Linked DNA regions of Homo sapiens. The protein of the gene in region 2 purifies or fractionates together with the protein of the main gene of each other region. This does not show direct contact. Each region holds a gene or a part of one and is shown on either strand. Other genes may lie near its edges.

Region 1 (3,748 bases), on a different chromosome or scaffold from region 2:
TGCACATTTTTCTATTATTATAAATCAGTTCCCAAAGGATATCCTAGTATTTGGAGTTTGGAATTCAGAGTTCTCTGAATAACTGAAGAGAAGCTATTTTGTGTATTACTAAAGATAACTTGATTCAAAATAATTTTTTTTTTTTTTTTGAGATGGAGTCTCACACTCACCAGGGCTGGAGTGCAATGGCGCGATCTCGGCTCACTGCAACCTCCGCCTCTTGGGTTCAAGCGGTTCTCCTGCCTCAGCCTCCGGTGTAGCTGGGACTACAGGCATGCGCCACCACGCCCAGCTCATTTTTTCTATTTTTAGTAGAGACAGGGTTTCACCATGTTGGCAGGCTGGTCTCAAACTCCCGACCTCGTGATTCGCCCGCCTCGGCCTCCCAAAGTGCTGGGATTCCAGGTGTGAGCCACTGCGTCCGACCTCAAAAATTTTCATTGGCCCAATACGCATTTATTTTTGAGATAGAGTCTTGCTTTGTACCCAGCCTGGAGTGCAGTGGCATAATCTCGGCTTACTGCAACCTCCACTTCCCGGGTTCAAGTGATTCTCCTGCCTCAGCCTCCGAGTAGCTGGGATTACAGGCACGCGCATCCATGCCCGGCTAATTTTTGTATTTTTAGTAGAGATGGAATTTCACCATGTTGGTCAGGCTGGTCTCGAACTCCTGACCTCAAGGTGATCCGCCCGCCTCTGCCTCCCAAAGTACTGGGATTACAGGCATGAGCCATCCCTCCCAGCCGCAATATACATTTAAAGGAATTTTGGGACTATTACTACTATTCATGTTTTTTATTGATCTGCTAATAACAGTTCCAAGGCGATGAGTATACAGTGTTAATGGAACACAAATCTCTATTATTTCCTTTCAAAGTATCCAGGAAGTGCCTGTCTTCTTAAACATTTGATTTTATTAACTCATTCTTCTTACAGTTTTAAATTTCTTTTTAGGCGATGAATATACAGTGTTAATGGAACACAAATCTCTATTATGTCCTTTCAAAGTATCTAGAAAGTGCCTGTCTTCTTAAACATTTGGTTTTATTAACTCATTCATTTTTCTTACAGTTTTAGATTTCTTTTTAAGCAACCTTTCTTCCTGCACACTGACCTATGTCTTACTTAAGGAATTTTTTTTTTTAGAAGTCTCGCTCTGTCGCGCAGGTTGCAGCGCAGTGGCGTCATCTCGACTCACTGCAACCTCCGTCTCCCGGGTTCAAACGATTCTCCTGCCTCAGCCTCCCGAGTAGCTGGGGAGGCGCCCGCCATCACGCCCGGCTAATTTTTATATTTTTAGTAGAGACAGGGTTTCACCATGTTGGCCAGGCTGATCTTGAACTCCTGACCTCAGGCAATCCACCTCCCTTGGCCTCCCAAAGTGCGGGGTTTACAGGCGTGAGCCACCGCGCCCGGCAAGGAATTAATATTTTACTAAAACAGTTTTTAGAAACACCAGGGAAAGGCTCAGGGCTAAGTATTTTATTCCAGTTTGTTCTAACAGCCACGCCATAGCAGACGTGTGACCACCTCCACCAGCCCTACGAGGGGTAGAACTGAAGCCAAGGCCCCAGTCACGGGCCGGGCTTCAGAATCCAGGCTTCCCTGCGGCCAGCGCCGCTGGCTCCCTGCTCCCCGAGATCGCCTCCCCAGTAGCTGAGAATACGCTGAGTTTTTATGGTTTCACATTCAGACTAAGCCGCCCGCGACCTTGTAGGTAAAGATGAATCCGAATGGGTCGGCGCGCCTGTTTCCTAGGGTACTGCTTTCGGGCGCTTTCTCCTGAAGTTGACACTTCCCAGCCGAGGAGCCTTAAAGCCCCACGCAGCGGAAGGAACGCGGCCCCGGCGGCGGCGAGACAGGCCTGCTCCCGGCCGGGAAAGGCGCACGAGAACCAGGACGCGTCCACGCCACTCGGGGCGGGCGTTCGCCCCGAGCACGCCCACCTCAGACGCCAAGGAGGCTGACCGCAGTCCGGTCGACGATGGGCATGGTCTCTACTTACTTTCCGCCCAGGCTAACCTCTAGCGCATTTTGCTAATTTGGGTCTGAATCGCCATCACCGCGGGCAGCGCAGCCTTAGCCGCCAGCCCTACAGCCGGGAGGGAATGTAATGTAAGGTTTGGCGCCTCGGGGCGGATCCGGCTTGCACAGTCAGTTAAGGAACCAGAGTATCGCGAGATCCGGGGTAAAGGGGCGGGAGGAGCGCGCGTGCACGCGCCCAGAGCCGTTAGGGTGGAACTCCACTCGGGCGGGGCGGGCGGAGTGATACAGCTGGACGCCAGTTGGTGGAGCCCCCGCGGGAAACGACTGAGCGCGAGGAGCGTGCGCGCTCCCGTCGTGGCGACGGTGGCGGCGAGCGGCGTCAGAGCTTGAGGGGGGGTTGACGGCTTCTGGCGGGTGGCGGTGTTGAAGGCGAGAGCTTGCTTGGCCCGTGTCGCTTCTGTCCCAAGAACCGGACGGAGAGTGAGGGCACGAGGGTCGCTGTCGGGGGCTGTCGTCTTCCACGTACACGTCGTCGTGAGGAGCGCAGTCCGGACTCTTCCCGCAACCCCTCCGGCTCCCTTTCCGCACGCCTCGAGGCGGCGGCGGCCACCGAGACAGCAGCGCACCTTCCCCCATCCCTTCCCCTTATCCCCCAGCCCAAAAGGGCCCGGTCTGCGCCCCACCCCCGCCCGTCCGCCCGCTACGCCGCCGCCATGTCGGCGCAGGCCCAGATGCGCGCGATGCTGGACCAGTTGATGGGCACCTCCCGGGACGGTAAGTCTCTGCCAGGGCCCTGGGGGTGGGGGAGGGGACGGGGACGGCGAAGGGAAGGGGTTCCGAGGGCGCACCTGGGCGCGCGCGTGTGGCTGAGTAAGGGGCTCCCAGATTGGTAACACGAGGTCCCCGTCCCCCGTCCCATCCAATCAGGGCTCGGCAGGCGGGCAGGGGGGGCGGTGACCATGCGGATTGGCGGGAACTGCTGCCAATGGGGTGAGGCGGGGCCTGGAGGCAGAAAGGAGAGTTTGTGCTTTTAATGTTGACTTGGCTGAGACGGGAGAGCCCGCGTCTCTGTTGCGTAGTTGGGGGGCCCGTTTTGTCGCTGGTTAGGTACCTGCGGAAAGCTAAGGCCTCCACCCCCGATATAATTCCTTAACCCAGAGCTTTGGGATCATCCCTCGCCGCCGTCCTCCAGAGTACCTAGAGAGAAGCTTCCCCCTCCTCTTCCTGGGTCAGGAGGAAACCTTTATTACTAACCCAGTCTCAGAGATGCACCCTCGAGCCCCACAGAAACAACCATTTTTATGGAAAATCTGACCCAAACCATGGTTTCTTAAGTGGGTGTGTTTGGCCCCATTTTGTGAGAAGGAACATGTTATGGCCTGTTTTTCCGAGAGACCTCCATTTTGTTAGACAATTTAATAGAGGCTTTGTTCAGTAAATATTGACAAATGTTGCATGTCCCTAACAGAACGATTTTGAAAATTTGGTACCCAGTGAAGTAGAATAGAGGAGAACAAAGATCCTTTCAGGCGTTTAGTTTAGAATCTGTATAGAGAGCCCTTAATTGCTGGATTATCCTTTGTCATAAAGAGAATTTCTAAATAAAATGATGAAATGCTGTTGCTTTTTTGGTGATGTTAATTAGTAATGTACTCTCAAATTCAACTTAAATACATTCAAATATGTAGGAAAGGTCTAGTTCATTACTTTCTTAACACAGCAAAATCCTTGGTAGTTTTTATGTGTTGCTTCTTTAGGCAGA
Region 2 (3,748 bases):
GGGTATCTGTGTCCCAGAGCCTCATCCCCGACATCAAACCCCTGGCGGGGCAGGAGGCTGTTGTGGATCTTCATGCTGATGACTCTCGCATCTCTGAGGATGAGACAGAGCGTAATGGCGATGATGGGACCCATGACAAGGGGCTGAAAATATGCCGGACAGTCACTCAGGTAAGGCTTCTGCACCCCAGTGTCAGGGGAAAGGTGGGAGCAGTAGATGCAGAGCAGCTAGCTGAGGAGCTGAGATAAAGTCTTTGGAGGGAACTTCCCTGTCTGTGCAGAGGGTTGGGTTGACTGACACTTTCAGGGGTCAGACTACCAAATCCAGCTGGCTACCTGTTACAAATAAAGTTTGATTGGAACACAACCACACGAGTTCATTCACTTTTGTCTGTGGCTGTTTGTTCACTACAACATCACCAGAGTTGAGTAGTTGCAACAAACTATGTGGCCTGCAAAACCTGAAGTACTGCTTTGCTCTACAGAAAAAATTTACTAACTCCTGTCTTAGTTTTCCTCAAGGCAAAGTTGAGGCACTAACAATCCCAGGATCTGGTAGAAGTGAGCCGATAACGAAATACCCCTAGCGGAAGGAACATGCTAGATTGACTGCTACTCTTACCGGGGAACCAGAGGCTGAAAAGAATATGCCAGTTTGGTGTTTAACAGACCTGCTGTGTTCTCTGACACCTTGATAGGTAGTACCTGCAGAGGGCCAGGAGAATGGGCAGAGGGAAGAAGAGGAAGAAGAGAAGGAACCTGAAGCAGAACCTCCTGTACCTCCCCAGGTGTCAGTAGAGGTGGCCTTGCCCCCACCTGCAGAGCATGAAGTAAAGAAAGGTGAGTGACATATTGTGAGAGAAATGTAATGCGGCTCCCTGAATTCTCAGAGCACCTCATTTGGATCGCTGAAAGCTTTGAATGTTTCCTGCCTTTCATTATATTTTTTCGTATATCATATCTTTCTCCTACATATTAAGTAAGCTACTTGAGGGCCAGATTTGACTCTGTTTAATCTTTGAATCTCCATGATGAGGAGGTTAGCCTAGCACAGTACTTTGCAGATTATAGGTGCTCTGCACGTTTAGATTAAGGAGTGGCTGCTTGGTATAAAAGAAAGGGAACCGTGAGAGTTACATTGAGGGTGAAAAGAGCCAGTATTGCTTCCTACCAAAAGCTGTTCTTGTGGTCTTCTTGATAGTGACTTTAGGAGATACCTTAACTCGACGTTCCATTAGCCAGCAGAAGTCCGGAGTTTCCATTACCATTGATGACCCAGTCCGAACTGCCCAGGTGCCCTCCCCACCCCGGGGCAAGATTAGCAACATTGTCCATATCTCCAATTTGGTAAGTCATTGTTTCTCACCATCCCAGCTTGCTTAGTGGTTAAGTTTGAGCTTTAGGCTTATGCCTCCTAGGTTCCACTCATAGTTGAACTGGTCTACCAATAGATTAAGTTACTCACTGATCTTGAGTGAGTTACTTAACATATTTACCCATCTAAAAATGAGGGGGAAAAGCTGTTGCCCTGCAGGGTTGTTTTGAGGACTTGCAGAAGGCCTCACATACAACGTCTCAATTAGTGCTGGGAAGCACCACCACTCTTCTCACATTCTTACTGCAAGGTTCCTAAACTCTCTGCCCTCCCCCAAACCTTGAAACTATACTCCTGTGACAGCAGCTCGGGAAATCTAAAGATTGGGTGGTGGTCTTGCCTTCTGCTAGACCCTGAAAGTCTATTTTCATTGGCAGGTCCGTCCTTTCACTTTAGGCCAGCTAAAGGAGTTGTTGGGGCGCACAGGAACCTTGGTGGAAGAGGCCTTCTGGATTGACAAGATCAAATCTCATTGCTTTGTAACGGTGAGGGGAAGAAGCTGATTCTATAGGTCATGGCATATATTTCCTTTTGTGACCAGTGTGGGCAGGTTTAAGGGTGTTGCAGCACGTGGGAAGGGTTGCAGACACACTGTGACCCTCCATCTTCTCCCTTCCTCCACCAGTACTCAACAGTAGAGGAAGCTGTTGCCACCCGCACAGCTCTGCACGGGGTCAAATGGCCCCAGTCCAATCCCAAATTCCTTTGTGCTGACTATGCCGAGCAAGATGAGGTAAGAAACCTAGGGAGAGGAAAGAGAGGAGGGGCAGGGGAAGCCATTATCTGCTAGATTTCAGCTGAGATCCTTGCCAGACCTGCAGTCTCTGAGCTTCTGTTCTTTTCTCTTCTTCCCTGGCTTTGGTTCCTTTAATTGTACCATGGGGCTTCAAAGTGGTACCTGGGCTCCTTTTTTTTTTTTTTTTTTTTTTGAGACAGAGTCTCGCTGTCTCCCAGGCTGGAGTGCAGTGGCGCGATCTCAGCTCACTGCAAGCTCCGCCTTCCGGGTTCACGCCATTCTCCTGCCTCAGCCTCCCGAATAGCTGGGACTACAGGCGCCCGCCACCACGCCCGGCTAATTTTTTTGTATTTTCAGTAGAGACGGGGTTTCACCGTGTCAGCCAGGATGGTCTCGGTCTCCTGACCTCGTGATCTGACCGCCTTGGCCTCCCAAAGTGCTGGGATTACAGGCGTGAGCCACCGCGCCCGGCCATCCTGGCTCCTTGAGTGGGAGTGATATCACCTCTATCCTAACTGTCCTTGTCCCTCCTCTCCCCACAGCTGGATTATCACCGAGGCCTCTTGGTGGACCGTCCCTCTGAAACTAAGACAGAGGAGCAGGGAATACCACGGCCCCTGCACCCCCCACCCCCACCCCCGGTCCAGCCACCACAGCACCCCCGGGCAGAGCAGCGGGAGCAGGAACGGGCAGTGCGGGAACAGTGGGCAGAACGGGAACGGGAAATGGAGCGGCGGGAGCGGACTCGATCAGAGCGTGAATGGGATCGGGACAAAGTTCGAGAAGGGCCCCGTTCCCGATCAAGGTCCCGTGACCGCCGCCGCAAGGAACGTGCGAAGTCTAAAGAAAAGAAGAGTGAGAAGAAAGGTAGGTACTTAGCTATGGGGTACGCATACCCACTAGTAGGTGGGAAAGGGACCCAGATGGGATGGGACAGAGGGTCAGATGCATCATATCTGGTTCACTTTTTTCCACCTCAGAGAAAGCCCAGGAGGAACCACCTGCCAAGCTGCTGGATGACCTTTTCCGAAAGACCAAGGCAGCTCCCTGCATCTATTGGCTCCCACTGACTGACAGCCAGGTGAGTGCTCTTCTTCGTGCCCTGCTCCCTAGTGGCACTGAGGCTTGAGGTCAGGGTGAGGGGAGATTCATGTGACTGCGAGAGTGAGTCGGCCCAAGTACTTCCTAGGTTTAGGATAAACTAAGCATCACAAAAAGGCAGTTTTCAGTTAATTGGTATAACATAGAGAAACCAGACTCAGGAGGGTAAAGATAGACACGCAGATAGCAGCTGAAGTTTGTGGATGTCTGGGAAGCTGGCTGTGCCGACCAGGCTTCTTAGAACTTGATTTTAGGCCGTGCGTGGTGGCTCACGCCTCTAATGCCAGCACTTTGGGAGGCCGAGTCGGGTGGATCACCTCAGGTCAGGAGTTGCAGACCAGTCTGGCCAACATGGAAACCCTGTCTCTACTAAAAATAACAAAAATTAGCCGGGTGCAGTGGCAAGCGCCCGTAATCCCAGCTACTTGGGAGGCTGAGGAGGAGAATTGCTTGAACCCGGGAGGCGGAGGTTGCAGTGAGCAGAGACCGTGCCATTGCACTCCAGCCTGGGCAACAAGAACAAAACTCTGTCTCAGA
Region 3 (3,748 bases), on a different chromosome or scaffold from region 2:
AACTCCTGACCTCAGGTGATCCACCCACCCTCAGCCTCCCAAAGTGCTGGGATTACAGGTGTGAGCCACCACACCTGGGGGCATAGCCTGCAACTTTAATCAATTTGTCAGTTCCAATAGTGTTTTGGTAGAGTCTTTAGGGTTTTCTAAATATAAGATCATATCATCTGCAAACAAGGATAATTTAACTTCTTCTTTTCCAATCTGGATGCCCTTTTATTTATTTCTCTGGTCCGACTGCTCTAGCTAGGACTTCCAGTACAATGTTGAATCACAGTGGTGAAAGTGGGCATCCTTGTTGCGTTCCAGTTTTTCCCCATTCAGTATGATACGAGCTGTGGGCCTACCATATGTGGCTTTTTTTTTTCTTTGCGACACAGTCTCATTGTGTTGCCCAGGCTGGAGTGCAGTGGCACAATCTCAGCTCACTGTAACCTCCACCTCCTGAGTAGCTGAAATTATAGGCCTGAGCCACCACACCCAACTAATCTTTGGATTTTTAGTAGAGACAGGGTTTTACCATGTTGGTCAGGATGGTCTCAAACTCCTGACCTCAAATGATCTGCCTGCCTGGGCCTCCCAAAGGGCTGTGATTACAGGCGTGAACCACCCCATCCAGCTGTATATAGCTTTTATTGTGTTATGCTCCCCCCCCCTTTTTTTTTTTTTTTTTTTTGAGACAGGGTCTCGCTCTGTGGCCCAGGCTGAAGTGTGGTGGTATGATCTCAGCTCACTGCAACCTCTGCCTCCTGGGCTCAAGTAATTCTCCCATCTCAGCCTCCTGAGTAGCTAGGACTACAGGTGTGTGCCACGAAGCCTGGCTAATTTTTGTATTTTTTTGTAAAGAAAAGGTATTACCCTCTTGCCTAGGCTGGTCTCAAACTCCTGAGATCAAGCAGTCCTCCCGCCTCAGCCTCCCAAAGTGCTGGGATTACAGACGTGAGCCACCACACCCAGCCTGAGGTATGTTTCTTCTATATGCAGTTTTTTGAGAGTTTTTATCATCAAGGAATGTTGAATCTTATCAAATGCATTTTCAGAATCAATTAAAATGATTAGGCCGGGCGCAGTGGCTCACGCCTGTAATCCCAGCACTTTGGGAGGCCGAGGCAGGTGGATCATGAGGTCAGGAGATCAAGACCATCCTGGCTAACACAGTGAAATCCCGTCTCTACTAAAAATACAAAAAATTAGCCAGGCGTGGTGGCGGGCAACTGTAGTCCCAGCTACTCAGGAGGCTGAGGCAGGAGAATCACTTGAACCCAGGAGGTGGAGGTTGCAGTGAGCTGAGATTGCGCCACTGCACTCCAGCCTGGGCAACAGAGCGAGACTCCGTCTCAAAAAAAAAAAAAAAAAGATCATATGGTTTTTGTCCTTCATTCTGTTGATATGATGTATAACACTGATTAATTTGCATATGTTGAACCACCCTTGCACTTGTATCCCCTGGGCAAAATGCCACTTGGTCATGATGAACGATCTTTTTTTTTTTTTTTTTTTGAGATGGAGTCTTGCTCTTGTCTCCCAGGCTAGAGTGCAGTGTTGTGACCTCGGCTCACTGCAACCTCCACCTCCCGAGTTCAAGCGATTCTCTTGCCTCAGCCTCCCAAGTAGCTGGGATTATAGGCGTACACCACCCACCATGCCCGGCTAATTTTTGTATTTTTAGTAGAGACTGGGTTTCACTAGGTTGGCCAGACTGGTCTTGAACTCCTGACCTCAGATGACCCATCATCCGCCCACCTCGGCCTCCCAAAGTGCTAGAATTACAGGCGTGATCCACTGCGCCCAGCCGATGAACCATCTTTCTAATGTGTTGTTGAATATGGTTTGCTAGTATTCTGCTGATTTCTGCATCAGTGTTCATCAGGGATACTGACCTAACATTTTCTTTTTTCAGTGTGTCTTTGTCTGGTTTTGGTATCAGGGTAATACTGGTTCTGTAGAATAAGTTTGGAAGTATTCCCTCCTCTATTTTTCAGAATAGTCTGAGTAGAATTGGTATTAGTTCTTCTTCAAATATTTGGTAAAATTCAGCAATGAAGCAATCAGATCCTGAGATGTTCTCTGCTAGGACACTTTCTGTTACAGCTTTGATCTCATTACCTTTTATTGGTCTGTTCAGGTTTGGGATTTCTTCATGGTTCAATCTTGGTAGCTTGTATGTGTCATTTAACATCTTTAATTCATTTGCAAATTACTCAACATATAATAATCAAGTCAGTAGGCCCTTTTCATTTCAAAGATGGTAACCCTGATGTATCGTAAAAGTAATCCACAAAATTCTGCTGATTTCTGGAAAAACTTAAGAGTTCTTAAGCTCTCCACTGCAGCCCCCAGGCCCTAAGGCTGTTCTGTAACAGCCCAGTGCTTATCCAGGCATGGCTACGACAGACCAAGACCCTCAGGTGGCCTAAAAGCTAAGCAGACACACATACTCTATTGCAACTTTTCTCCAAATATAAAACAATTCAAAACAAAACTTTTTTTTTTTTTTGAGACAGGGTCTCACTATGCCAACCAGGCTGGAATGATCATGGCTCACTGCAGTTTCTACCTCCTGGGCTTAAACGGTCCTTCCACCTCAGCCACCCAAGTAGCTGGGACTACAGGTGTGTACCATCTGGCTAATTTTTAAATTATTTGTAGAGATTAAGTCTCCCTACGTTGCCCACACTGGTCTCAAACCCCTGGGCTCTAGCTATCGTCCTACCTCAGCCTCTCAAAGTGCTAGGATTACACACGTGAGCCACTGCGCCTGGCCACAAAACTTTTTTTTAAACTTGGATAAATATTGTGAAAGGCAACAATTTCTTTTACCGTCTTTCTTTTCTTCTTTCATCCATCCTTTTATCCAGGGCTGCATAGATAGCATCTGCTTCCTCATCATCTTTCTCGTAGGGTCCACTTGAGAAGAGGCTCCCAGCATAGCCATTAAACTGAGAAGCAAACAACACGTGTAGAGGTCAGCTTTTCCTTCAACACCATCCCCACCAGCGAAACGGAGATCTCTACTTGTGAAATACTTGCTAAATTATTTTCTTCAGCCAACGAAGCCAAATCAAGGGACAGTCTACCATATAACTGGTGACTACTCTTCAAGCGTCAAGGGCATGGAAGACAGAGGAGACCCCCAATTGGAAGGGACCAAGGAGACATGACGAAATGCAATGGGGGATCCTGGACTAAGCCTAAGCCAGAAAGCGGACATTCATGGAAAAACATGAAATGCAAATACGACTGACAAATTAGTTAATAGTACTGTGTCAATGTTAACTCCTTCGTTTCAATAACTGCACTAAGGTCATGTAACATCGGGAGAAGCTTGGTGAAAGACATGCAGAAACTTTTTTTTGGGGGGGCACTATTTTTGCAAATTCCTGCAAATTTAAAATTATTTCAAAACTAATTTTTTTTTTTTTTCTGAGACAGAGTCTCGCACTCTCGCCAAGGCTGGAGTGCAGTGGCGCAATCTTGGCTCACCGCAACCTCCGCCTCCCGGGTTCACAGCATTCTTCTGCCTCAGCCTCCCGAGTAGCTGGGACTACAGGCACATGCCACCATGCCCGGCTAATTTTTGTGTAGTTTTAGTAGAGACGGGGTTTCACCATGTTAAACAGGATGGTCTCGATATCCTGGCCTCATGATCCGCCCACCTCGGCCTCCAAAAGTGCCAGGATTATAGGTGTGAGCTACCGCACCTGGCCTCAAAACTAAAATTATTTTTAAAAATTTTCCTCAGAGGAAA

The links.
Region 1: the proteins of ACIN1 (region 2) and LUC7L2 purify together in Homo sapiens (affinity purification with mass spectrometry; 5 studies listed by BioGRID and IntAct, with this or other methods). This does not show direct contact.
Region 3: the proteins of ACIN1 (region 2) and PRPF6 purify together in Homo sapiens (co-immunoprecipitation; 2 studies listed by BioGRID and IntAct, with this or other methods). This does not show direct contact.

The regions. Positions count from the first base shown.
Region 1 is NC_000007.14:139,357,563-139,361,310, forward strand, and holds the start of LUC7L2 (putative RNA-binding protein Luc7-like 2), read left to right. Parts: upstream 1-2,331; 5' UTR 2,332-2,699; coding exon 2,700-2,760; intron 2,761-3,748. UniProt on the Homo sapiens protein: May bind to RNA via its Arg/Ser-rich domain.
Region 2 is NC_000014.9:23,060,527-23,064,274, reverse strand, and holds part of ACIN1 (apoptotic chromatin condensation inducer in the nucleus), read left to right. Parts: intron 1-17; coding exon 18-170; intron 171-697; coding exon 698-839; intron 840-1,200; coding exon 1,201-1,346; intron 1,347-1,751; coding exon 1,752-1,859; intron 1,860-1,999; coding exon 2,000-2,107; intron 2,108-2,652; coding exon 2,653-2,977; intron 2,978-3,090; coding exon 3,091-3,191; intron 3,192-3,748.
Region 3 is NC_000020.11:63,984,098-63,987,845, reverse strand, and holds part of PRPF6 (pre-mRNA-processing factor 6), read right to left. Parts: intron 2,940-3,748; coding exon 2,821-2,939; intron 1-2,820. UniProt on the Homo sapiens protein: Involved in pre-mRNA splicing as component of the U4/U6-U5 tri-snRNP complex, one of the building blocks of the spliceosome.